4 linked regions of the Homo sapiens genome follow. The protein of the gene in region 2 purifies or fractionates together with the protein of the main gene of each other region. This does not show direct contact. Each region holds a gene or a part of one and is shown on either strand. Other genes may lie near its edges.

Region 1 (7,041 bases), on a different chromosome or scaffold from region 2:
CGATCATCTTAAGGAGAAGAAAATCTGCCGAAGAAGAGGATGCTGTTGGATTCATTGTGCCTGATGAAGAACAGGAAGGGATGATTGCAGTGAACATTTTCATGACCTGGGGCGGATGTGACAGTAAAGCCTATGCCGGTGGCAGCTGCAGCCTCGGTGCCTTCCTCAGTTACTGCCACAAAGGAACTGTGCAGGAACTTCTGGGCGTACAACCCGGAGCCTGACGACATTCCCGAGTAGTCGGCTTTGTGCTCACTGAAGGCATCGCCCATCCCCATGGCAGCCAGGACCGCCTCTAGATCGTAACCGTCCTCCACCTCAAACCGGGGCAAGTGCAGATTCACCTTTCTTTCTTCCATATGCCCTGGACTAGTCCACTCTACCAATTTCTCAGGACTTATTTTATCTATTATCTATTTTCAAAAAAAGAAGAGTAGAATGGCATGATTATCAATAAAAATCTAAAACAGTGTAACACTGATTTGTGTCAGTCAGAAGTTATTAATTTTAGTAATATTAAAAGTAGAAATTTTATTTCACTAGATTGTTGTCTTTATACTGCAGGCGGTTGTCTTATATCTCTCTGTTTAAATTATCTGTGTATATGTGGAAATCCAATAGCATTGAATACATTTTTAAAGATTAAAAATAAGTCATTTCTTATTTTATCAACCTAGTATATATTTCATTTTAACTATCTCTCCTAGTCTTTGAATGCATATATATTTACATAGTTGCAATCACAGTGAATGTCCATTTTATTTGATAAAAAGTAAACTTTTTCACAATATTGCATATCTCTCCTATCTTCAAACAGCTAGATAATATTCTTATGAAGTTGATAAATTTTTCCCAATATTTAGCTATTCATTCACTTTACAAACATTTAGTCTTTATCAGGCATTGTGATAGATTTGATAGTTACTAAGGATACAAAATAATAATTACGATGAATTTCAAACTGGGCATTCCAGTGTATTTAATACCGAAATAACTGATTTTACTCAGAAAGGCAACTTTTTTCTTCTGCATTATTTCTTTAGAGTAATTCCCACAACTGGGGTTTTTGAATCAGAAATACTCTTAAAGCTCTCAGACATATTGCTATTTTGCTGTCTCAAAATATTTTCCAACTTAAAATGCTACTAGCAATATTTCACAGAAGTAGCACAGCATCTGGTAGTATAAGACGATAGCAGTTATCATTTGAGTGCTTTCTATGTCCTAGACCCCTTCTAGGCTACGTTTCTCTAATCATTCCAACACTGCTGCACGTTAACCACCATGGAGCCCTCTTCAGAGATGGGAAAGTATTGAAGTTCAAGGAAGTTAAGAAGCTTCAAGGGTCAGAAAGCCACTAGAGGAACAGGGATTTGAAACAAAACTCTCCTCATTTTCAAAATACAGGACACTAGCCACAATTTATTTATTTATTTATTTATTTATTTATTTATTTATTTATTTATTTAATTTTGAGACAGAGTCTCGTTCTGTCACCCAGGCGGAGTGCAGTGGCGCTATCTCGGCTCACTGCAAGCTCCACCTCCCAGGTTCACGCCATTCTCCTGTCTCAGCCTCCCGAGTAGCTGGGACTACAGGCGCCCACAACCACGCCAGGCTAATTTTTTGTATTTTTAGTAGAGACGGGGTTTCACCGTGTTAGCCAGGATGGTCTCGATCTCCTGACCTCGTGATCCGCCCGCCTCAGCCTCCTAAAGTGCTGGGATTACAGGCGTGAGCCACCACGCCCGGCCTTCACATAATTTTTTTAACCACAGAATGGATGAGACTAAATCAATGGTGTAAGAGTGTAAGAAAGAAATTCAAAAGCTCCAAAAGCCTATTGAACAGTGTGCAGAACTGGTTGTATATATGCATATGTGATTTCTTTTTTCCAGGAAAGGGGTCCATAGATACCAACCATTTCTCAGAATGGTGGGTGATCGTTAGGACTCCCATATAATCTTAAATGTTCATTTTAGTTCATCCCAAACATTCTAGGATTAGTTGTTCTCAATAAACCTGACCCATACTATTTAATGCTCCCCAGTAGACATCCATCTGTAGCTGCTGGAGAGTGAGAAACACTTTCTATTTGACACTGCTGGCCACCAGCTCCTACTCAGAAGCCCTGAGACAAAAAGCCTTAGGAAATGAAAGAAAGAATAAGGAGGTGTAAGCGTTTACCTTCTCCAGGCCATCGATGTCGTTGGGCAGAAGCACAAACATGCTTAGGTCGTTGTTTTTATATGGAATCCCTAGAATTTTGGCCTGCAAGTCCTCCAGGAAAGTGAAGCTAAAGGAATGGCTCTGTGTCATCATCTGTACAGATTTACTTGTGCTCTGCAACAAATTAACAGAGCACACAATATCAAAGGACATAAGACCAAAGGCATTAAGGCAACCAAGTTAGTTCATCAAAATAATTAGCTCAATCTAAAATAAAACCCAATATCAGAGTCTCAGAATGAGCATCCACTATCTACCAGTATGCATTTGCTCAAATATGACTTTAGATTTTTTTGGGGGGGTGGGGGATGGAGTCTCACTCTGTCACCAGGCTGGAGTGCAGTGGCATGATCTTGGCTCACTGCAACCTCTGCCTCCCGGGTTCAAGCAATTGTCCTGCCTCAGCCTCCCAAGTAGCTGGGACTACCGGCGTGCACCACCACACCCAGCTAATTTTTATGTTTTTAGTAGATACGGGGTTTCACCATGTTGGCAAGGATAGTCTCGATCCCTTGATCTCATGATCCACCCACCTTGGCCTCCCAAAGTGCTGGGATTACAGGTGTCAGCCACCACGCCCAGCCATGACTTTAGACTTTACATTCCATGTGTAAGCACATCACGAAAATAAACTAAGGGCCATACCTTATTCATCCAAAATTTCTCTTCCTTAGTATTTTCTTTCTTAAACTCCCTGTCCCATTGCCCTTTAAAATAAACCATGTTCACCAGCACCAGCTTGGTAGAGCTACTAATAGAGCCATCTGGGAACAAGTCCTTGATTTTTTCTGCAAATGAAGAAACAGAAAAAGGTTGACCCATCTTCCAAATGACAAATAATATGTATGACAAATATGATGCAGATGGACTTGACTGATCATTAAAAACCCAGCCAGGTCAGCACCTGAGGGCCTTGCTGACAAAGGGTTTGCTGGCAGAATCGACGGGGAGGTTCTCATTTTGCCCATCGCCTATTTATCCCAGTGGATAAATTAAGGTTCATGGTTAAGAGTCCAGACTCTGGGGTCAGATGCCTCTGTTAGCATCCAGTTTGCCTCTTATCAGCTGAGGAATCTTGGGCAAGTTATTTAAACTCTCTGTGCCTCAGTTTCCACATCTGTAAAATAGGAATAAAATCTGCCTCATAGGGTTGTTGAAAGGAACAAATGATTTAACACATGTAAAGCTATTAGAATACCATCTCACACATAATAAGCACTCTGTGTTAGCTATTATGCTTACCATTCAATATAGTTACCACCTGAGATTAAGGGATTACTTATTATATTGGAGAAGGAGTTGATATTTTTGTCTCTGAGTTCACCCCATCCCACAATAAATTCTAAAAAATACTGTTCAACTTTTTGAAAGATCCTATTTTTTCTGTTTCTTTTATTTCCTTTCTTCAGACCAAGCATGAGGGGAAAAAAAAAACACATTCTGAATAACAAAGTTCTCTCTGATAATTGGTATAAAAATGGAATCTGAAACTCTAACACTAAAGTATCAGCTATTGCTCCCCAAGGTGAATTTCCACATTAACATTTCTCTGTGGATTTCCCATACCAGGGGATGAGAAAGGAATAATGGGATAAGAAACTTGTCAAATCCTCTGCTGTGGGGAGAGCTGTAGGTTGTCGTTACCCCTGCACTATGCTTAAGTGAAGATGAAGACTAGGTGGCCCCAGCTGTGGATGGGAACGACAAGTCTTGATGGGAGAGCTGCGTGTTTCTCATTTAACACAGACAGAGAAAAACTCAGGAAGAAAGGCTCTGATATAAAGGAAAGAATGTAAACCCAAGACAGGCATCATCCTATTTTCAGGACCCCCAAGATATTGTGATCCATGGCTATGTGTAAACAGTTCTCCAGCAAGCGTTTCCGTGCATTTGGCTTCATGCAGTCCCCTCACTGGCTCCCCTTGGCCGCTCCACATTTGCTGAAATTGCTCCACCATCTGCAGTGCCTTCCCTACCTCCTAGGCCTGGGCTTGCCCTTCCAACCCTGCAAAACCTATCTCAAGTCCCTTCCCAAAGCTTGTGCACTGCATGGCACCCCACGCAGTGACAAGTCCAGGGCTTCATTCACAGCAGGTTGTCAAGAAGTGTTTTTTGTTTGTTTGTTTCTTTGTTTTTGTTTTTTTGCAATGAATGACCCACCCATACTCTACCATTTGTTTTGCTTTCAACCCAGGAATTAATCTTCTTTCGACTTTCATCGGCTGCATTTACAAAATCAACAGGTTCCAGAGATGCATGATAATATTTTTCAACATAATCTAAGTATTTCTTTAGGAGAAACAAGGAAGGAATAAAAAGAGGTTAAAAACTCAATTTATCAATTGCCAACATCTCTAAATAAATTTATGTATACATTAGGATGACTAATACAGTAAGAGAAATTTTAAGGCCCTGGGCATCTCACATTGAGTTCCTGCTGCACATTTTTATGCAGCTATTCTGGGGATGAGGCAAAAATCAGGTTCAGATTGCCAGGACTAAAAAGGAACTCCCTGCAGTTCTGAATATCTGTAGATCAGGATGGAAAAGCACCACAGGGATGTGGCCAGAGCCAGGCAGCACGACTTCAGGACCCATAGTCCTACCAGGGCCATTTGGCCATTCCAGAATACCACTCACAGATATGGTAGGCATGGCAAACTTACTTGAAGGAAGAGGTATGTTTTTTCTCCAAACAGCCTGTTGGTTATGTTCAGTTCATAATCATTAGTGAGTTTGCTTATTTCAGTCAAAAACTTTTGGAATTGTTGATGTACTGCTTCTGTGTTCTCAATCTTGAAAATTAAAACAAAATCTCAACAGGTTATCTTGGCAAAAGCAAGCCCAGATTCTCCCCTAAGAGGATGCGGCTGCTGGGTCTCTCCCTCCGTTTGTCAGCCTCAAGGGTGATCCCTGTGTTTGATGTGGCCCCTGGATATCAGGTAGCCTTTACCCAAGTCATATGATAATGTCAGTTATGACCAATCTCAGCTCCAGAGAGAAGCCTTCTCTGCCAGCCCAACACCACAGATCTTGCATTTATAACTCAAGTTGTGGGCTTTTTTGGTCTCAAATAAAAGTGCTCACTAAATGTTCAATAAGCTTGTTTTTAGCTCCCCACAAGATTCTAAGCATCTAAGGAAAGTAAGTGATTTCTCCGGACGATTCTTATCTATTGAAGTTTGGAAATTTTTCCAGATAGTGAATAAGAAGAGTGACTCCTAATGGTATGAGTCACTACACATTGGGCTGAAGTGAGATTTATCCTTGTCTCCAGGGGAAAAAAAAAATTTTCTGAATATTTTATGTAGGACCCATCAGTTTTCTGATTGAAGTTTTCATATTCTATGTTACCTTAACGACATATCTAGAATGTCATTATTTCAACATATAAATACAATAAATATTAATTACATATTAATATATAAGATACATATTTCAGCAAAAATAATACATGAAAATTAATATTTTGTATTCCTTTCTCATACTAAGTTCTTAAAATATAATATGCATTTTATACCTATAGCACATCTGGATTCAAACTAGATGTATTGCAAGTGTTCAATAGCCACTTGAGTAGCTACTATACTGGATAGCTTGGGACTGGATAAACTCTCACCCAGGCAAATTAGGAGGCTGGCATTAAAAAGGCCATTTTTGCATTGTTTGTAGAAGGAAGGAAGGAAGGAAAGAAAAAAGGAAGGAAGGAGGGAAGGAAGGAAGGAAGGAAGGAAAGAAAAAAGGAAGGAAGGAGGGAAGGAAGGAAGGAAGGAAGGCCGGCCCCATCAACAAAATAAATGAGGAAATAGCTATAAAAATGAATCAAATAGAGCTATAAGTATCCCCTTAAAATAGATGAATCTTATAAACATGATGCTAAGCCAAAAATAATCAAGTTCCAAAGAAGAATGACAAAAATATATGGCATGTAATGAAATAATAAATACGTGGGAATAATGAACACCTAATCCACAATAGTGGGACTTCCTCTCTGAGGAGAGGATGGGGGCGTGCTCAAGGAAGGTGTTATACATCAGCCTAAGGGGCATCAGCTGATTTGGTAATAGTTTATTTTGTACACTTAAAGGAGGGGTTAAAGTGTGTTTATTGCATTTTTCCTTATACCTTTTGTACATATGTCTTGAGATTTTATCAGCATTTTTTAAAAGCAAGATTCAAAATACTCTGAATTTACATAATAATCAAACGGGTACATGCCAAGCCAGTCTCTGGGCAAACTATTAAATGAGGAGATTGGAGTAGATGACCTCTAAGATGTATTCCAGTGCTAATATCCTTTCAGTCAGTAATTCTATTCTCTTCATACCCCTGTGGCTCCCAGGAAAATTCTGGGGAATGGGCAAAACTGCTAGACAGCATGTATGTGTAAGCTTTGCCTTACACAAAGCTGAAATTCAGTTTCCACCCCAGTCATCTAGCCCTTCACATAGGAGTAGGGCAGCTATCCAAAAGAATGAGCTGTTTTCTAATTTGCACAAAGGTTCTACATGGGCTATCATGGCTGAGAAAGAATGTGCTCTGAAGACAACTGCACTTCTCAGTTGAGGGAACATTGCAGTGGCCATATGACCCAACTTGGTTGCGCAAACCCTGAAAGGAAGCCTGACCCTCCACAGGAGCAACTGAGCCACCCACACGACCTAGCCTTTTGGGGTTGTGAAATGAGCAGCTCCTATTGCTGGGTGATCTGAGCCATGGTTTTATGAGGGTCTGGAATTGCACTATGACTACTGTCAGAGCAGCTGTGCCCTTCCTGAGAGTGCTAACGTCTGATCCTAGCCCCGACCTAAT
Region 2 (7,892 bases):
TGCTGGGATTGCAGGTGTGAGCTACTGTTACCCAGGTGATGTATATTTTATAATATTAAAAAACGGTAACATTAAAGAAAAGTTCCAGAAGTACCAAGATGTATATAATTCTACCCTCTACCAAAATTTGCTTAATTTTTCCACGTTTTCTTCCAATCTTTGACAAAACCCATATATTCTTATTGAAATCATGCAAAGATATTTTATATTCTACCTTTTCCCTGCTGTACATTTCATACACCTTTTTGATGTGCTATGTAGCATTCAAATTTGCCCTCTTTAATGGTATAACATGGTTCAAGTTTATAAACTGCACACCATAATTTACATAACTTCTTCTCATGTTTAAATCTTCATATTCTTTTCATTTTCCCCTGTTTATTATTGGTTGCAAGGCAAAGAATATCTTTGTACACAGAGATTTCCCCCTTTCTTCTTGCCAGGTATGGTGACTTCTTTTCTTAGAATAAATTCTTAGGAATGAAATACCTAGTTTTCCCTTCACCCCCCAAATTCTAAAAACTTTCTCTTCCTCTCTTTATTCCTATAACCTCTTACTTTTTCAGTCTTTTTGCTTATCCCCTTGCCTTCTCTAATATAACTGATCTCTGCCATTGGCTCTAACAGTGGTTGTTTAGATACTATAAAGCTCTCTTGCTGTTAAATCCCAGCTTGACCTCACTATCTCTTAGGTGGCCCAACATTGCACAGTGCATTGTGAGGGCTGCTTCTTGCTCTCATTTCTTAACCCTTCCCCTCATCACAGTGTCTACTTCCTTCCTTCCACTCCACTCCTTCACTAAGGTTAAAGTCTGCCAGGGATCTCTCTGTAAGTCCAAAGGCTTTTTTCTCTATTTTTATCTTCCCATTGGAGCTCCTGTCCTGAAGTGACTTTCCTCCTATAGTTCTTCAGGCCTTTCTCTTTCCTTTTCTCTCCCTACTCAAGGATTATCTCTTTCATAAAACTTTCTCTAAGGGTTGGGATATGCCTACCTCTTTTGAGTCCACAGTCAACCCAGGCATATCTCATCCCTTAACTATACTTTGCCACATTTTAAGTTGTTTAACCCTCTTTTGAATGAAGATGAAGTTGAGGGGGGGAAAGTAAAAACTTGCAGAAGCCTCTACTTACAGTTTCAAAATAAACTCTTGAGATAAAGTAAACAATCACAGGCCATACTGTATTAGTAACAGAAGATCTATAAAGTGAGGTCCATGGATCAGCAGCATCAGTGTCACCTGGGAGCTTGTTAGAAATTCTGAGTTGTAGGCTCCACCTCAGACCTCCTGAATCAGAATCTAGGTTTTTAATATAATCCTCAGTGATTCACATGTGCAATATAGTATAGGAAGCACTGGTCTAGTGGACCAGTGAATGTCTGCCAAGAAGGACCTCCATCAGAAGGCCTCTAAGGACCCCTTGGGAACCTCAAACCAATGATTTACACCTCTTGCTGGGCAAGGGTGGCTGCCATACCTATCAGCCCTTTGATGACAGCTACCAACTGATCTCCTGACTAGGTGGGTGGCCTCCCTCCCTCATCATTCCAGGTACAGGCACATTCCTTTGAAGCTGCAAAAGAGTTTGAAGAATACAATCTTTCTCAGAGAAGACTGTTCTTCAACCAAGGATGTAGGCAAGGATGTAGAGTCATTGGTAAAGTGGACACATCCTACTAGGGGTTAGGAAACACTGTTTCTATCATCTTTCCTAACATAAAAATATGTGAACAACATAGAATCGAAAGACAAGAAATATTTATATTCTTCCTTCTTTCACTCAGTAAATATTTACTAAGCACTCACTATGTTCCAAACACTATTCTAGGTGCTGGGGATACAGCAGGGAACAAAACAAAGTCCCAGTCTTAGTGGGGTTCACGATCTCTAGGGCAGTAGTCCCCAACCTTTTTGGCACCTGGGACCAGTTTCAGGGAAGACAACTTTTCCATGAAAATTTTGGGGGAGGGGGGTTAAAGGATGAAACAGTTCCACTTCAAATCACAAGGCATTAGATTCTCATAAGGAGTGCGCAATGCAACCTAGATCCCTTGTATGAGCAGTTCACAATAGGGTTCAAACTCCTGTGAGAATCTGCTGCTGCTGCTGATCTGACAGGAGGCGGAGCTCTGGCAGTAATGATTGCATGCCCACCCGCCACTCACCTCCTGCTGTGCGGCCTGGTTCCTAACAGGCAACAGACAGGGGGCCTTTACTCTAGGGGATGGAGATGGACAACAAACAAGTACATAATATGGCCTGTAGTGATAGCGCTTTAAAGAAAAATAGAGCCAGGCAATAAGACCAATGGGCATGGCTGCAGCAGATTAAGCAAGAAAGAAAGCATAATGAGATGAGACTGGAGAGGTGAGTGGAGCCAAGTCATGTAGGGTCTTTAAGGAGCTTGGATTTTATGCCAAGTACAATGGGGGCCATTGCAAAGTTTTCAGCAGAGGAGTGACATGATATCGTCTACATTTTAACAGGGTGTCTCTGGGCAGGGTGCGATGGCTCCCACCTGTAATACTAGCTCTCTGGGAGGCCAAAGGTGGTGGATTGCTTGAGTTTCAGGAGTATGGGACCAGCCTGGGCAACATGGTGAAACTTCATCTCTACAAAAATACAAAAAATTAGCTGGCCATGGTGGTATGTGCCTGTTAGTCCCAGCTACTCAGGAGGCTGATGTGGGAGGATTGCTTGAGCCCAGGAGATGGAGGTTGTAGTGTGCTGAGATCATGTCACTGGACTCCAGCTTGGGTGACAGGGCAAGACCTGGTCTCAAAAAAAAAAAAAAAGGTCTCTCTGGTTGGTATATGGGGAATGGACTCTAAGGGGCTAAGAGTGGAAGCAGGGAGCCGAATAGCAGGCTGCTGTAAGCAGGTGTGTGGTTGGTGAAGATTAGGGTGACCAAGTGGTAGTGGTGAAAAAGGTTCCAACAATCTCAATTTCCCTATTTAAAAAGTCATCACAAGGTAACTGATGTGAATTTTTAAAAAATCTTGGAGGGGAAACTGATATAGAAAACAAACTGTAGAAATAACAGGGCTTTTCTGGGTTGAGCACTGTTAACTACACCCCCTGGGAATCAGTGTCATTTAACATTTCATAGAAGATTAAGAAAAAGGAGTATTTTGAGATATGTCTAGATACACAAATCATACTTTGCTTTCCACATAGTAAAATGTCAAATCAATAGGGAGCAGCTTCTGGAACATCTCTAAAGCCATGTGCATAAGCTGGAAAGTGGCAGGTATCTTGTCACATGGATGAGTGTATGGCAGCTCACATAGGGAAAGACAATTCAGAGGATACCTTTAAGACAATGAACTCTGAACTGCTGGTTGCCACCAAGGTAAGGAATCTAGAAGTTGTTTTAGATTACTCTTTCAAGACATCAACTCTTCTAAAGTCCAAACAGCCAGCAAAAGGTCTGGCTGTCCAGAATAAAGACAAAACATCAGCCTTAACAAAGCCTCAGTACATCCCTCTTTGGGCTTAGTGTGCAGTGCTGGTCACTGCATCCTAAGAAAAAGAAGCGCCAGAGAAAGGCAAGTAAAATAATTAAAAGAATAGAGGGGCTTTTTTTCTCTGGGTTAAATGCCCATAAAGAAGATAAGATGCTTTTATAGCATGAAAGACTCAGAGGAAGTAAAAATAGCCCTTGTCATCCAATCCTATAATTCTTAAATTAGGGGACAAAAGAAGCTTGAAAATGGGAGTAATGAAGAAACCGTCGTTGGAGGACATATAAAAGAAGGTCCTTCTTTGGCTGGGGCCAGGGGTCAGGTCTTTAAGTATTCTCCAATATGTGGAAGTACATGTGGTAGCTGTAAATGGAGGGTGGGGGTGGGGGTGGGGGACACGCAGCCCACCTCAACAGTCCTTCGAAGGGACAAAAACCACTCTGGACTGGTGCCCGCCTTCCCTCTTTCCCCAAATCACCACGGAATACAACCACAGAAACTCAAAACCAGCAAAAAACGCTGACAAGACATTCAAAGGATTCAAAATGCTAATACTAAATCTCATTGTCTGGGAAAATTAGATTGAAAATAAATTCAAGGGTGCAAGATTTATAATAGATTAACAAGGGAAATTAAGGATGTTGGTGGGGCCGGGAGGAGATACATCCTTAACTTTGTGATTCACACGATGGAGCAATACTGTGTCCTTCAAAGAAATGGTATTTGGTAATCTGAGTTGGACAGCTATCATAAACCATTTCCTATATACACTGTTAGCATAGTCAGAAAGTGAGAGTTATGGATTGACATAGGGATTAGATCATTTGAATTTTTAACCCACAGCACAAGTCCTTCAATCGTTTTCAATAAACAGAGGGAGAGGGAGACTCTGATGAACCGTTGCTCACGTGTTGAACAGTTAGCAATCCCGGGCTATCGGGTCCCTGCTGACCTTCCTTCAGAAAAACGAATGGACATGTAAACGGAATGAGGAAAGGAGGGTAATAACCAGAGTGTCATTGAATTGAGAGATGTTAAAAATGGGCCACAACCAACACATGGGCCCTTACTTTTAGGTGAAAGATTCCTATATATAAATACATAGTATGTTCTCTCTTGCCAAGAAATATTAGACTAAGGAACTTCATTCCTCACGAAGAAGATAATCCCCTCTTCCTTCCCATAGGTCCCTTACCTTACCTGCTTCTTCCCTCTCGCGGGTAGGAACTTTGAGCCCCGCCTCTCGGCTCGTCCAAGCTCCGCCTTCCCCGTCCACCTGTGTGCCCAGCCCCTGACGTTACCGGTCGGCTTCAGCGGCCTGCAGGATTCCGGCTCCCAATTGGTCGGCCCGTCCACGGCTTGCGCAGCTCACCAATGGCAGCGGTGCTGGGTGGAGGGGTGCCCACATCCAAGATGGCGTCCCCAGGAGCTGGGAGCGGGTGACCGGCGGCGGGGAAGCGGCCTGGGTTGGCCCTCAGATTGCGGGGTCTGGGGGCATCTCGCCGGGCAAACCCTTGGCCCGCCTACAAGGACTTCCCCCGGCCAGAGCAATGGCCGCTGAGAACAGCAAGCAGTTTTGGAAGAGGAGCGCTAAGCTGCCGGGGAGGTGAGCCCAGGACGCTGAGAGGGATAGGGGATTGGACCAAACCCTTCCAGATCCTAATCCCTGAATCCCGCGGGCCTGGGGCGCCACAGAGGCCAGAAGACTGGTTTGGGGAAGCTGGGACTGCCTGGTGGCGGCAGGGCAGCTGTCAGGCAGCGAAGCGAACAGCGAGCTTTGGGGACGGCTGGATGTGGGTGTAGACCGGGGTCTGGGGGCGGAGGTTTCAGGAGGGGTGACCTCAGCGGGAAGGTGGCCGAAGATTGGGCGTAAAGGGGAGTGGAGTTGGGTGAATAGTCAGTGTCGGCCCTGGTCTCGGAAGTTCCTCCCCAGAGCTGCTTCCCACTCTAATTAGGACTCCCTCTCAGGGGTCTCCACCACGCACAGGTGGTTGGTCGCTCGAGGATGGCCCCTTCCCTTGATCCCTGAGGTCGGCACTTACCCGAAGGATTCCGGTGGGAGTTTGGGGCCGCCTGCCGAGAGGGTTAGGCAGGAAAAGTGAGGACGATTCTCAACCCTGACCTTACTTTATCTTGAGTTGGCCCTTTCCCACTAGGAATTATTACAAGACGACCACAGAATCAGGGTTATTCCTTTGGCATTTTCTAAGGATTTGTCCAACCCCAAGTGACTTCTTCCTCCCCTGCATTGTAATGCACTTCTTGTGCAAATGCACTAAATTCGTTCATTCTTCAGTTGTTTAACTGGAGAGCAGACCCCCTAAGACTACCCCCACCCTCTTTTCGGTGTATGTTGAGACTTTTGGCAAATTATCCATCCATCAATCTACTGTTGGTTTACTGTTTCAGTTTATTTTGGGCAAAGTCCTGAGAAGTATAAGGAAGAGTGTGTATTTCAGTCGTAAATTTAAGATTTCTGCCAGCTACAGTCTACTTGGTGATGAAATTCATGTTTGGTTGTGTCCCCTGTGCTACCTTTTCTAATGGATTCAGGTTTTTTCCTTCTGGGATAATCTTTTGAACTCGTGACTTTTTTTTTTTAAGCGAGAGAGAGATGAGGGTCAGTAGTGGCTAGGTAAGAGCCTTAATTTTTTTTTTTTTTTTAAATGAAATAGAGACAAGGTCTGACTGTGTTGCCAGGGCTGGTCTCTGACTCCTGGCCTCAAGTGATCCTCTTGCCTTGGCCTCCCAAAGTGTTGGGATTACAGGCGTTAGCCACCATGCCCCACCAAGAGTCTTATTTTATTAAGGATTCTAGTAGACATATGGAGAATAGGGTGGAAATCAGCTTTTAGTAATACTTATTAAAGTAATAGAAAGGAATGCAAAGATAACTTCAGATTAAAGTGCTGTGGACTCAACAGTGTTAATATTACTGTTAAAGATGTTCTGTGTTTTTAGGTAAGCACACTTCCTGCCAACTGATTCCTTTTCCTTCCTGGTCTAGTGAGCTCTCTAGTTGTGCTAACTGCTATTCTCTGGGGTTTTCCGTAGTGAGATCATTAAATTTTGACATCCTAAGATTATAATCATAATCAATAGGAAGACTGTTGTATCAGGAAGCAGTGTAAGAGATGTGGGACGTGGCATGGGCTTCTGTGCCTTCTGACTGCTGGTTGCTATTAACAATCTTTTTTTCCTATATTTCCTGTATTTGGCTATAAGAACAGTCAACTTTTTTAAAGCACTACTTTTCTGAGATAGGAAGAGAAGTCTTTTCAGTTTCTTCAAGTTTCTGGATTCCTTTTTCATTTTGAAGAATATAGAGAAATAGAGAACTTTCGAGTTCAGAAAGACTTGGGTTACTATTTGGGCTCTGTTGTGTGTGTGACCAAGACAAATAATCTTTCTAGGCCTCAATTTCCTTACCTATGAAATGAGAAATAAAAATACTTTCCTCAGAGTTACTGTGGGGACTAAGTGAAATACCCTATTTGTAAAGAGCCTAGGACAGTGTTTATTTAGCACATTATAGTTGCTCAAAAAAACAGTAGTTATTAACATTGCTGTCATTATTACAGCAAGTAAACATTTAAAATAATGTTACTCAGATCCTTACCCCAGCTCATTGTCTTCGTTGTTTAAGGTATTCAAATATTGTCACAATTCATAATAGTTTTTAGTACCTTACTTGGTAAAGAGAAATACTGTTCAGCTGTGTGCTTTTAGCAGTGAAGCCCACAAGCCTCTGGTCATAGGAGAAAACTAAGGTTCTTTTAGATAGAAAGGTACTTTGGTTTAAAGAAAATGTTAGGGCATTTTCTCAAGAATAGAACTTTTGCATCTGTACTCTTTCGGTCTTAGAGAAGAAAAACTTTCTCCTGGGTGGGGAAATGACACAAATGACTCTACTGGATGCATGCAAACTTGGAAATGAAACTAGTTTACTCTTCTTTGCAAATTGAAAGGTGAAAAATAAAAGCGATGACAGGGTTCTTTCCATTTGTCTGATCATGATCCAACAATCTTAGTGACAACAAATAGAAATTTTATTAAATAAAAGAAGTTGCAAATGAATGAAACATTCTTTTTAAAAATAACAGCTTTATTGAGATATAATTCACATACCATAAAATTCACTCTTTTAAAGTGTACAATTCAGTGGTATTTAGTATATTCATTTATAGTATAGATGGTTTTGTGCAACCATCACCACTAATTTCAGAACATTTTCATCATCCTGAAAAGAAACTACATACCTGTTTACAGTCACTCCCCATCCACCCCACTCCAGACCCTGGTAACTACTAACCTACTTTCTGTTTCTGTGGATTTACCACTTTTGGACATTTTATATATATGGAGTAATATGATCTGAGGCCTTTTGTGAGTGGCTTCTTTTATTAAGCACAGTGATTTCAGGCTTGT
Region 3 (3,147 bases), on a different chromosome or scaffold from region 2:
CACTGGGCCAGGGAGGATGGGCAAGATTATACTGCGTGAACAAAAATCCCCAAATATTGATGACCTAATGAAGAAGGATTGGTTCTCAGTAGCATGTCGAATAAGGGCCGGCAAGGGGGCTGTGCTCACTGTGGCTACTCAAGGACCCAGGCCCAAGGAGTCTTCATCTTAATATGTCTCCACAATTGCTGGGGCAGGAAAGGGGAACTTGACATATTGTGCAAAGCTTCTGCCCAGATTTAACATACCTCATTTTTGCTTACATTTCACTAGCTTAAGTTATGTTAATTAAGTTAAGTAAGTTATGCAGTACTCCTGGATTGGGAGGATCCTGGATTCCAGTACTCCTGGAACAGGGCAGAGAGGATCTACTTTCCATGTGCCCAGAAAAAAAGAAATATTTGTGAACAGCCTTAATGATTCCACATGACTCAAGAAGTCTCCTGCCTGGTGAGGCAGAAATTGGGCAGGCCCTTTTCATCTGGGAGGTGGGATAGCAGAGCAGGTCAGAGCCTGGGCTCTGGCGTAGTTCTAGAGCCTGAACCTTGCCATCTAACTAGTCCTAGCAGCTTGGGTGGAATACCCAACTTCACTGGGCAAACTTCACTGGCCCTCACTTGATGAAACATGCATGGTGATGGCACCTGCCTCAGAGGAAAGGAGAGAATGCATATGGACGACTCAGCACAGTGCCGTATGTGGATTCAGGGCTCATTTAATTCAGGTATTATCATATGAACCATTCTCTTGCGGTCCGTGCTCTGGAGTTCAGCTGAGGCCTTCCTGTGCTTCAGCACCTGCTTCCTGAGTGGCAGAAAGGCTTGAGTCCTGAGCTTGTTAGCTGCAGAGCAGGGACACATCATAATCTGGAAGATGAAATCTGGGCTCTGGGCAAGGGCAGGAAGAAGCTTGAGAGGCCAGTTTGTGCAGCGCATCTGTGGGTCAGGGCTGTCACTGAGCGCAGGTGAAGAACACCCAGAGACAGATGATCAAGCTCCAAGTGTGGCCGCACCTCTGCTTATCCTGTCTTTCCTACAGGAGTTTCTGTATAAAACAGCGGGGGGACTCATCTACTGGATTGGCCTGACTAAAGCAGGGATGGAAGGGGACTGGTCCTGGGTGGATGACACGCCATTCAACAAGGTCCAAAGTGTGAGGTAAGCCCCTGGAGCCCTCCGTGCCAGCCTGACTTTCCCCGGCCATGGCCAGGGCATGAAGGGAGTGGGGGCGATGTTCCCCATGAGACAGGGTTTCTGATTCTTCCCTGTCTTAGAGTGACAGGAACATTGCAACCAAGATCGAGCACAACCCTGTCACCAACTGGCTGTGGACCTGAGCCCTCCACGCCCTCTGGGGTTTGGCAACAAGGCCTTCTACCTGGCCAGCTTCAGGGATCTTGTCATGAGTCTAGGTCTTCACAGTGTGGGTTTGTGTAGGGACTTGAAAGTGGTGGGTTGGTTTGGCCTGGACTTGGGGCATGTGAAAGCTTAGAGGTCGAAGTCTCACCAGTCCCCTTCCTCTGAGGCTTGGGTGCAGACATTTGCTATGCCATTCCCTAGGACAAAAGCTTGGGTTGAGTTAACTCATTTCTTCACTGGAAATAAGTTCTTTTTGATTTTCCACTTTGTAAATCCATCTTTTTCCCCGCTCTTGGTAGGTTCTGGATTCCAGGTGAGCCCAACAATGCTGGGAACAATGAACACTGTGGCAATATAAAGGCTCCCTCACTTCAGGCCTGGAATGATGCCCCATGTGACAAAACGTTTCTTTTCATTTGTAAGCGACCCTATGTCCCATCAGAACCGTGACAGGACAGGCTCCCAAGCTCACTCTTTGAGCTCCAACGCTTGTTAAACATGAGGAAATGCCTCTTTCTTCCCCAGACTCCAGGATGACTTTGCACGTTAATTTTTCTTGCTTCAAAATTGTCCCACAGTGGCATTCTGGAGTCCGTCTGTCTTGGCTGGAAATTCTCTGACGTCTTGGAGGCAGCTGGAATGGAAAGGAGAATTCAGGTTAAAGTGGGAGGGGTGGGTAGAGAGGATTTAGAAGTTCCAATTGCCCTGCTAAGGAGGATCAAGACCCGTAATCCGGCATAACACCCTGGGGTTTTCCACTCTTTCAGAGAAACCTCAGCTTCATCACATCAAAGTTACTCCAGAGCAACCAAGCAATTCTCCTGATATTGTCATCCAGGGCTTTTCTTGGCCAAACCCCCTAGAATTTCCATGTCTCTGCTTAGCTGTGCTGGCAGCTAGCAGCTGGCTGTGTTTGCAGTGCAAATAGCTCTGTTCTTGGAAATCCTGCTCATGGTATGTCCCCAGTGGTTTCTTCATCCACATCATCTAAAGCCTGAACCCGTTCTTCTCTGGTTCAAGTCAGTGGCTGACACGGACTTGTATCTCCTTCAGAGCTCGGCTGGCACCCAGCCTCCCTTCTCCTTCCACTCCCTTAGTACACTGGAGTGCCGAGCCCTGCCTTCCACCCAGCGTCCATCCAGCCCCTGTCCTCACCTCTCCGGCACCTCCTCCTCCTTCTGCATTTCCTATCTTCCTGTGTCTTGTGCATGGGAAGCAGCCTTCAGTGCCTTCATGAATTCACCTTCCAGCTTCCTCAGAATAAAATGCTGCCTGGGTCAAGGACTCACTCCAAGTGCACTTTTTCATTTCTGGTTGTCCAGGTGAATATGTGGGAAAGGCAGTCTCCTCTGGTGGACATGAAGTTCTAGGGTATCCTCAGGAAACATCTGGGGAGTCAAAAATAACAAGGACTGGGGAAGTTCCAGTCCTGGAAATGCCACAAAATGTGACCAGTACTTATCTCTAGTTTTTATTAAAGTAGAGCAAGGTCTCCAATGTCACGATCTTGGTGATCTTTCTTCTTGTTTACTGCACAATCTTCTAGTCTATAGCTCAATTCCCAAGAACAAGTCTCAGCAGGTTCCCCACTCTTCACAGAGACCCAGTTCCACAGGCATCAGTTCCAAATCCCAAGTCCAGTGGCTGAAGCTGGAATCCAGGCAGCAGCCACCACAGAGAGGAGAGGAGGGTGGAGTGAGCACAGGTCTTCATTAAGGTCCTCAGGAAAAGATGCTTCCTTAAATAACTGTAACCAGCAGTGTGTTGTTCTGGGTGCAAATGGGTCACA
Region 4 (4,991 bases), on a different chromosome or scaffold from region 2:
CTGAGGTGTGACCACACAGAGGATCTTTGATGTTAGATGGCTGGGGCTGTGGCCAGGCTCTGAGTCACAGAGGACTCCTCCCTCATCCTACCCGCTTCCCGAGGTTCCTTTCCCTCCCTTCTTGGGGAGCAGGTGCCACCATCTTCCTCCGGCACTGTTTGCTTACTTCTGGCAGACCCCCGTGGGACCCCTGTGTCCTGTCTACTGTCATCCCAATCCCTCTGAAAACCGCCAGCCTCCCTCCTCACTTGTCACTCGTGAGATGCTCAGAAACACTTTCACACCCCTTCCCACGCTGATGAAGTTGGCCTGTTCTCTCCTCCCTCCTCCCTTCCTTCTTCCTCTCTCCATCCTTTCCTCTCTCTCCCATTTTACAGACAGGAAAAACTGAGATCTGGGAAATGGAAATATGCCCTGGAACAGGGCCGGCAGGACCAGGGCTCAAAACCAGGCACATATTTCTTTCTAGTCTCCCTTCCTGAAAGGTCACCTCTCTCCAATCTTAGATCTTCAGACTTTTTTCCCCACCTTTATTTTTCATGTTATAAAAGTGCACATTCAAGGAAAAGTACACAGAAGGAAGGAGACACCTCATGACGACCCCAGTATGCAGTCTGGGACATGTGTTTTCAGATCTGATTCTGTGAATATTTCATTTTTTATGGGTAGGGTCACATACATATATATTTTTGTCCTTCCTTTTGTCATTTAACATCCTATAGCCTAAATGTTCTTGAATAATACTGACAATTCTGTCTAAGTATCATTTTTAATAGGTTTGTAATATCATTGTGGGCTGGCCGTGGTGGCTCATGCCTGTAATCCCAGCACTTTGGGAGGCCAAGGTGGGTGGATCATCTGAGGTCAGGCGTTCAAGACCATGCTGGCCAACATGGTGAAACCCTGTCTCTAGTAAAAATACACAAAAAATTAGCCTGGTGTGGTGGTGCACACCTGTAGTCCCAGGTACTTGGGAGGCTGAAGCACGAGAATCACTTGAACCCAGGAGGCGGAGGTTGCAGTGAGCCAAGATTGCATCACTGCATTGCAGCCCAAGCAACAGAGACTCTGTCTCAAAGAAAAAAAACATCGTTGTGCCAAGCCAGACTATTATTTAAGCCATCTGGTACTTTTGGAACATGTTTGATGGTTTCACTTCATTTCTGTGATAAATAATATCATGGTAAATTCAAGTCTTGTTCTACATTTTGGATTTTTTTTGTTTCAGTAGGTTCTTCCTAAGATTAGAGTTACTGGGTCAAAGGTGGTGAATAAGGGTCTCGGTGTACGTTGACCAAGTGTCTTCCGTAAAGACTGTACGAACGTCCAGTTCCAGTGTTTGAGAGTGCTGGTCTCACTGACTCTTCTCCAGCACTGAGGGTTTTGTGTTTCTTTATTTGTTTTGGTTTTAGGTCTTTACCAATTTGATTGGTTTATCAACAGGGCATGAGGTTGGTTTAAATATATCTTTGAGGAAAGGTAAAGTCAAATTTGACTTCATAGGTCATCGGCGTCCTCACTCCTGTGCATTTTCTGTTGGAAGCACACAGTTAATTAACTCAGTGTGGCGTTAGCGATGCTTTTTCATGGTGTCATTTATCCACTTGGTGAACTTGCACACTTGAGTGTAGACTCCTGGGTCATTGGGTTGGCCGCAAGGGAAAGTTCCCCAGGACACCAGACCTTGCAGGGTACCTCTGCACACCAACGGTCCCCCTGAGTCACCCTAGAGGGAATAGAGCCGGAGATTAACTTTGGCTTCAGATCAAAGCCCAACTCATTCTCATACATTCCTCAGTTATCGGTCTTTGTCTTGCAGATTATGGACTTCCACCATAGCCAATGAGAAGAGACTCATTGTCTCTGGGGACTAATGGGAGAGCTAGTGCTAGGGACACACTAGGTCCTTTGAAGACACTGGTTTGACCCTTGGCCAATGAGACCAATTGCAGAGAAGGGGTGGGGCTTCCAGGATCAGAGCACTCTTTATTTTCCAATGTTAAGGACCCTGCTCCAAGCTAGTGGGAGAAGGAACATCATCTCCAAGGGGTGGATGCGTGCCCTGTGGCGCAGGAAAGGGGGACACGATGGTCTCGGAGACCAGGGTGAAGACCAGTTACATAATTTACAGGACTTGGTGCAAAACGAAAATGCAGGGCCCTTTGTTCAAAAATTATTGAGAATTTCAAGACAACAGCAGGAATGCATTAGACTAAGTTTGAGACCCTTCTGAGTGTGGGGCTCTGTGTCCGTGCAGAGCTTGCACATTCATGAAACTGGCCCTCACCAGGGGAGAAGGGGAACACCCTATTCTCTAGGACAGTCATCTCTCTCCCATCTCCTCTATCCCTAACACTCACCATCCCACATCCCCTGACAGCTGAAGGTGCAGATGTGAGCAAGGAGGATGGGTGTGGAGAGACAGAGAGAGTTGGAGGTGGAGAAGAAAGAGGGAAAGGAGAGAGAGACAAAGAGAGATGAGGAAGAGGGAAAGGGTATGGGGAGAGAGAGAGACAGAGAGATGGGGGTGGAAAAGAAGGAGGGAGAAGAGAGACAGACAAAGAGATGAGGGAGATGGGGAGGGTGTGGGAAGAGAAGAGAGAGAGAGATGGGGGTGGAGAAGAAAGAGGGAGAAGAGAGAGACAAAGAGAAAGGGGGGGAAGGTGTGGGGAGAGAGATGGGGTGGGGGTGGGGAGAGGAGAGAGAGACTGGAAGAGAGGAGGAGAATAAAGAGAGAGAAAGAAAGACAGAGATGGGGGAGCGGCAGGGAGAGGAGAGAGATAGAAGAAAGAGAAAGAGAGAGACAGTAAAAAGGAGGGGGCAAGGAGAGATGAGGGAGAGAGATGAAGAGAGACAGAGAAGTGGGGGAGAGAGAGAAAGAGGAGAGGGCCAGAGAGGAGACAGAGAGAGAGGAAAAAAGAGAGAGCAGGGGGGCAGGGAGAGGAGAGAGGGAGGGGAGGAGAGAGAGAGAAGCAAGAGAAAGAGGGAGAAGACAGAGAGCAGAGAGGAGGGCATGGAGAGAGAACAAGGGAGGGAGAGCAAGCTAGCTCAACACAGAGAAAAAACAAAGAGGAAAAGAATGAAATGAAATTATGTCACAAAGAGAGATGTGGGAAGACTGTTCAGAAACAGAGGGGATGACAAAAGGCCAGAAAGAGGGAACAGAGAGGAGGTGGAGAGAAAGAGTGTTTTCCCCGGGACCAGGGCCAGGGTCAGGTGAGTGAGTCATCAGCTTCAGGCACAAAATCTCAGTAACTGCAATACACAATACTTCAATGCAGTACTTAACGAAATCAAATGTAATACATAAAACTGCATGATGGGCATGGTATCCACATTTTAAATGAAGACAGTGCCAGTACAGCGCTGTGCTGAGCCACGCTAGTACTTACGGCAAGGGAAAATTCAGTAAGATCCACCTGCTCTTTATTTAAAATGTGACATTTTGTCCATCATGGACTTCTGCATGAGTTTTTATTTTTATTTTTAAATATTGCATTATGATTTATCTCAATCACTGAGGTTTTTGGTGCCCCCTTAAGGTTTGGGCCTGAGGCCAGCACCTCAGTCTCCTTCCCTGGTCCCACCCCCACTTTCTCACCCCTATTAAACTCTCTGTCTCATCCCCAGGGCCACATTGGCCCCTAAGTAAACTCCCACCCCTGACCTAGGCAGAGAATGAGGTGGAAAAAGCTGAGGAGGCCAGGCCTGGGGGGAGGGCAAGGCCGGGCTTGGTACCCAGTCACTCGGGTCAAGCTCTGTCCCTGGGGCATGCAGACAGGGTACCCAGGACTGGGGAGGAATTGGGGGGGAGGGTCTCACATTGCAGGCGTTTTTCTTGGAGTCGGGGATGCCAGCGCACAGCATGGAATTTTCCAGTAAGTCCTTGTAAACCTTCGTGCAGTCCTGGGGGGAGATGAGCTTGACATCCACGCACATGAGGTCAGAGGGAAAGGTCACTGCAGGGAGGAGCAGGGAGAGCTGTCAGTCAGAGAGGATGGGGGCGAGGACCAGAAGGGCTGTTGTTCAGGCTCCTGGTTCCGAGGGAGGAGGGTCTGGGGCCCAGGACTGCTGGGTCTGAGGGAGGAGGGGCTGGGGTCTGGACTCCCGGGTCTGAGGGAGGAGGGGCTGGGGGCCTGGACTCCTGGGTCTGAGGGAGGAGGGGCTGAGGCCTGGACTCCTGGGTCTGAGGGAGGAGGGGCTGGGGGCCTGGACTCCTGGGTCTGAGGGAGGAGGGCTGGGGCCTGCACTCCTGGGTCACTGAGGCCACCTACCATCTGGGCTCGTGGTAGTGCCCCAGCCGGAGACAGTACAGGTGGTTCCAGGGGGTTCGCAGCGGGAGGGCAGCCTGACTTTCTTCACCATGGATGACAGCCTGGCCTGGCTATTGAGCTTCACGAGCATGAGGTCATTAACATGGGTCTGTGTGGAGTAGCCGGGGTGGCGGAATGACTTCGAGGCCTTGATCCTCTGAGCTCTCCTGTCGCCCAGCGTATCACTGCCCAGGTGCACGGTGTACTCACTGCGAGGAGTGACATTCACAGATTCAGAAGAGACACTGTGACAGAGAGGGTGTGCAAAGACCTGGGGGACGGGGTGGGGACAGAGACCCAGAGAGAGGAGGGGGGACAGAGACACAGAGAGAGGAGGGGAGACAGAGACCCAGAGAGAGGGGAACAGAGATCCAGAGAGAGAGGGGGACAGAGCCCCAGAGAGAGGGAGACAGAGACCCAGAGAGGGGGGGACAGAGACCCAGAGAGAGGAGGGGGGAGAGAGACACAGAGATAGGAGGGGGGACAGAGACACAGAGAGAGGAGGGGGGAGAGAGACACAGAGAGAGGAGAGGGGACAGAGACCCAGAGAGAGGGGAACAGAGACCCAGAGAGAGAGGGGGACAGAGATCCAGAGAGAGAGGGACAGAGACCCAGAGAGAGAGGGACAGAGACCCAGAGAGAGGGGAACAGAGACCAGAGAGAGAGGGGGACAGAGCC

Evidence for each region.
Region 1: the proteins of TBC1D22B (region 2) and SERPINB13 purify together in Homo sapiens (affinity purification with mass spectrometry; 2 studies listed by BioGRID and IntAct, with this or other methods). This does not show direct contact.
Region 3: the proteins of TBC1D22B (region 2) and CD207 purify together in Homo sapiens (affinity purification with mass spectrometry; 2 studies listed by BioGRID and IntAct, with this or other methods). This does not show direct contact.
Region 4: the proteins of TBC1D22B (region 2) and KLK7 purify together in Homo sapiens (affinity purification with mass spectrometry; 2 studies listed by BioGRID and IntAct, with this or other methods). This does not show direct contact.

Annotation. Positions count from the first base shown.
Region 1 is NC_000018.10:63,590,331-63,597,371, reverse strand, and holds part of SERPINB13 (serpin B13), read right to left. Parts: intron 5,025-7,041; coding exon 4,896-5,024; intron 4,519-4,895; coding exon 4,401-4,518; intron 3,347-4,400; exon of another isoform or gene 3,198-3,346; coding exon of another isoform or gene 3,134-3,197; intron 3,018-3,133; coding exon 2,875-3,017; intron 2,344-2,874; coding exon 2,188-2,343; intron 414-2,187; coding exon 9-413; 3' UTR 1-8. UniProt on the Homo sapiens protein: May play a role in the proliferation or differentiation of keratinocytes.
Region 2 is NC_000006.12:37,252,904-37,260,795, forward strand, and holds the start of TBC1D22B (TBC1 domain family member 22B), read left to right. Parts: upstream 1-4,868; 5' UTR 4,869-5,014; coding exon 5,015-5,070; exon of another isoform or gene 5,071-5,241; intron 5,242-7,892. UniProt on the Homo sapiens protein: May act as a GTPase-activating protein for Rab family protein(s).
Region 3 is NC_000002.12:70,829,711-70,832,857, reverse strand, and holds the end of CD207 (C-type lectin domain family 4 member K), read left to right. Parts: intron 1-1,038; coding exon 1,039-1,157; intron 1,158-1,657; coding exon 1,658-1,808; 3' UTR 1,809-1,936; coding exon of another isoform or gene 1,937-2,049; 3' UTR 2,050-2,647; downstream 2,648-3,147. UniProt on the Homo sapiens protein: Calcium-dependent lectin displaying mannose-binding specificity. Induces the formation of Birbeck granules (BGs); is a potent regulator of membrane superimposition and zippering.
Region 4 is NC_000019.10:50,975,966-50,980,956, forward strand, and holds the end of KLK7 (kallikrein-7 isoform 1 preproprotein), read right to left. Parts: intron 4,523-4,991; coding exon 4,275-4,522; intron 3,960-4,274; coding exon 3,823-3,959; intron 1,727-3,822; coding exon 1,571-1,726; 3' UTR 503-1,570; downstream 1-502. UniProt on the Homo sapiens protein: May catalyze the degradation of intercellular cohesive structures in the cornified layer of the skin in the continuous shedding of cells from the skin surface. Specific for amino acid residues with aromatic side chains in the P1 position.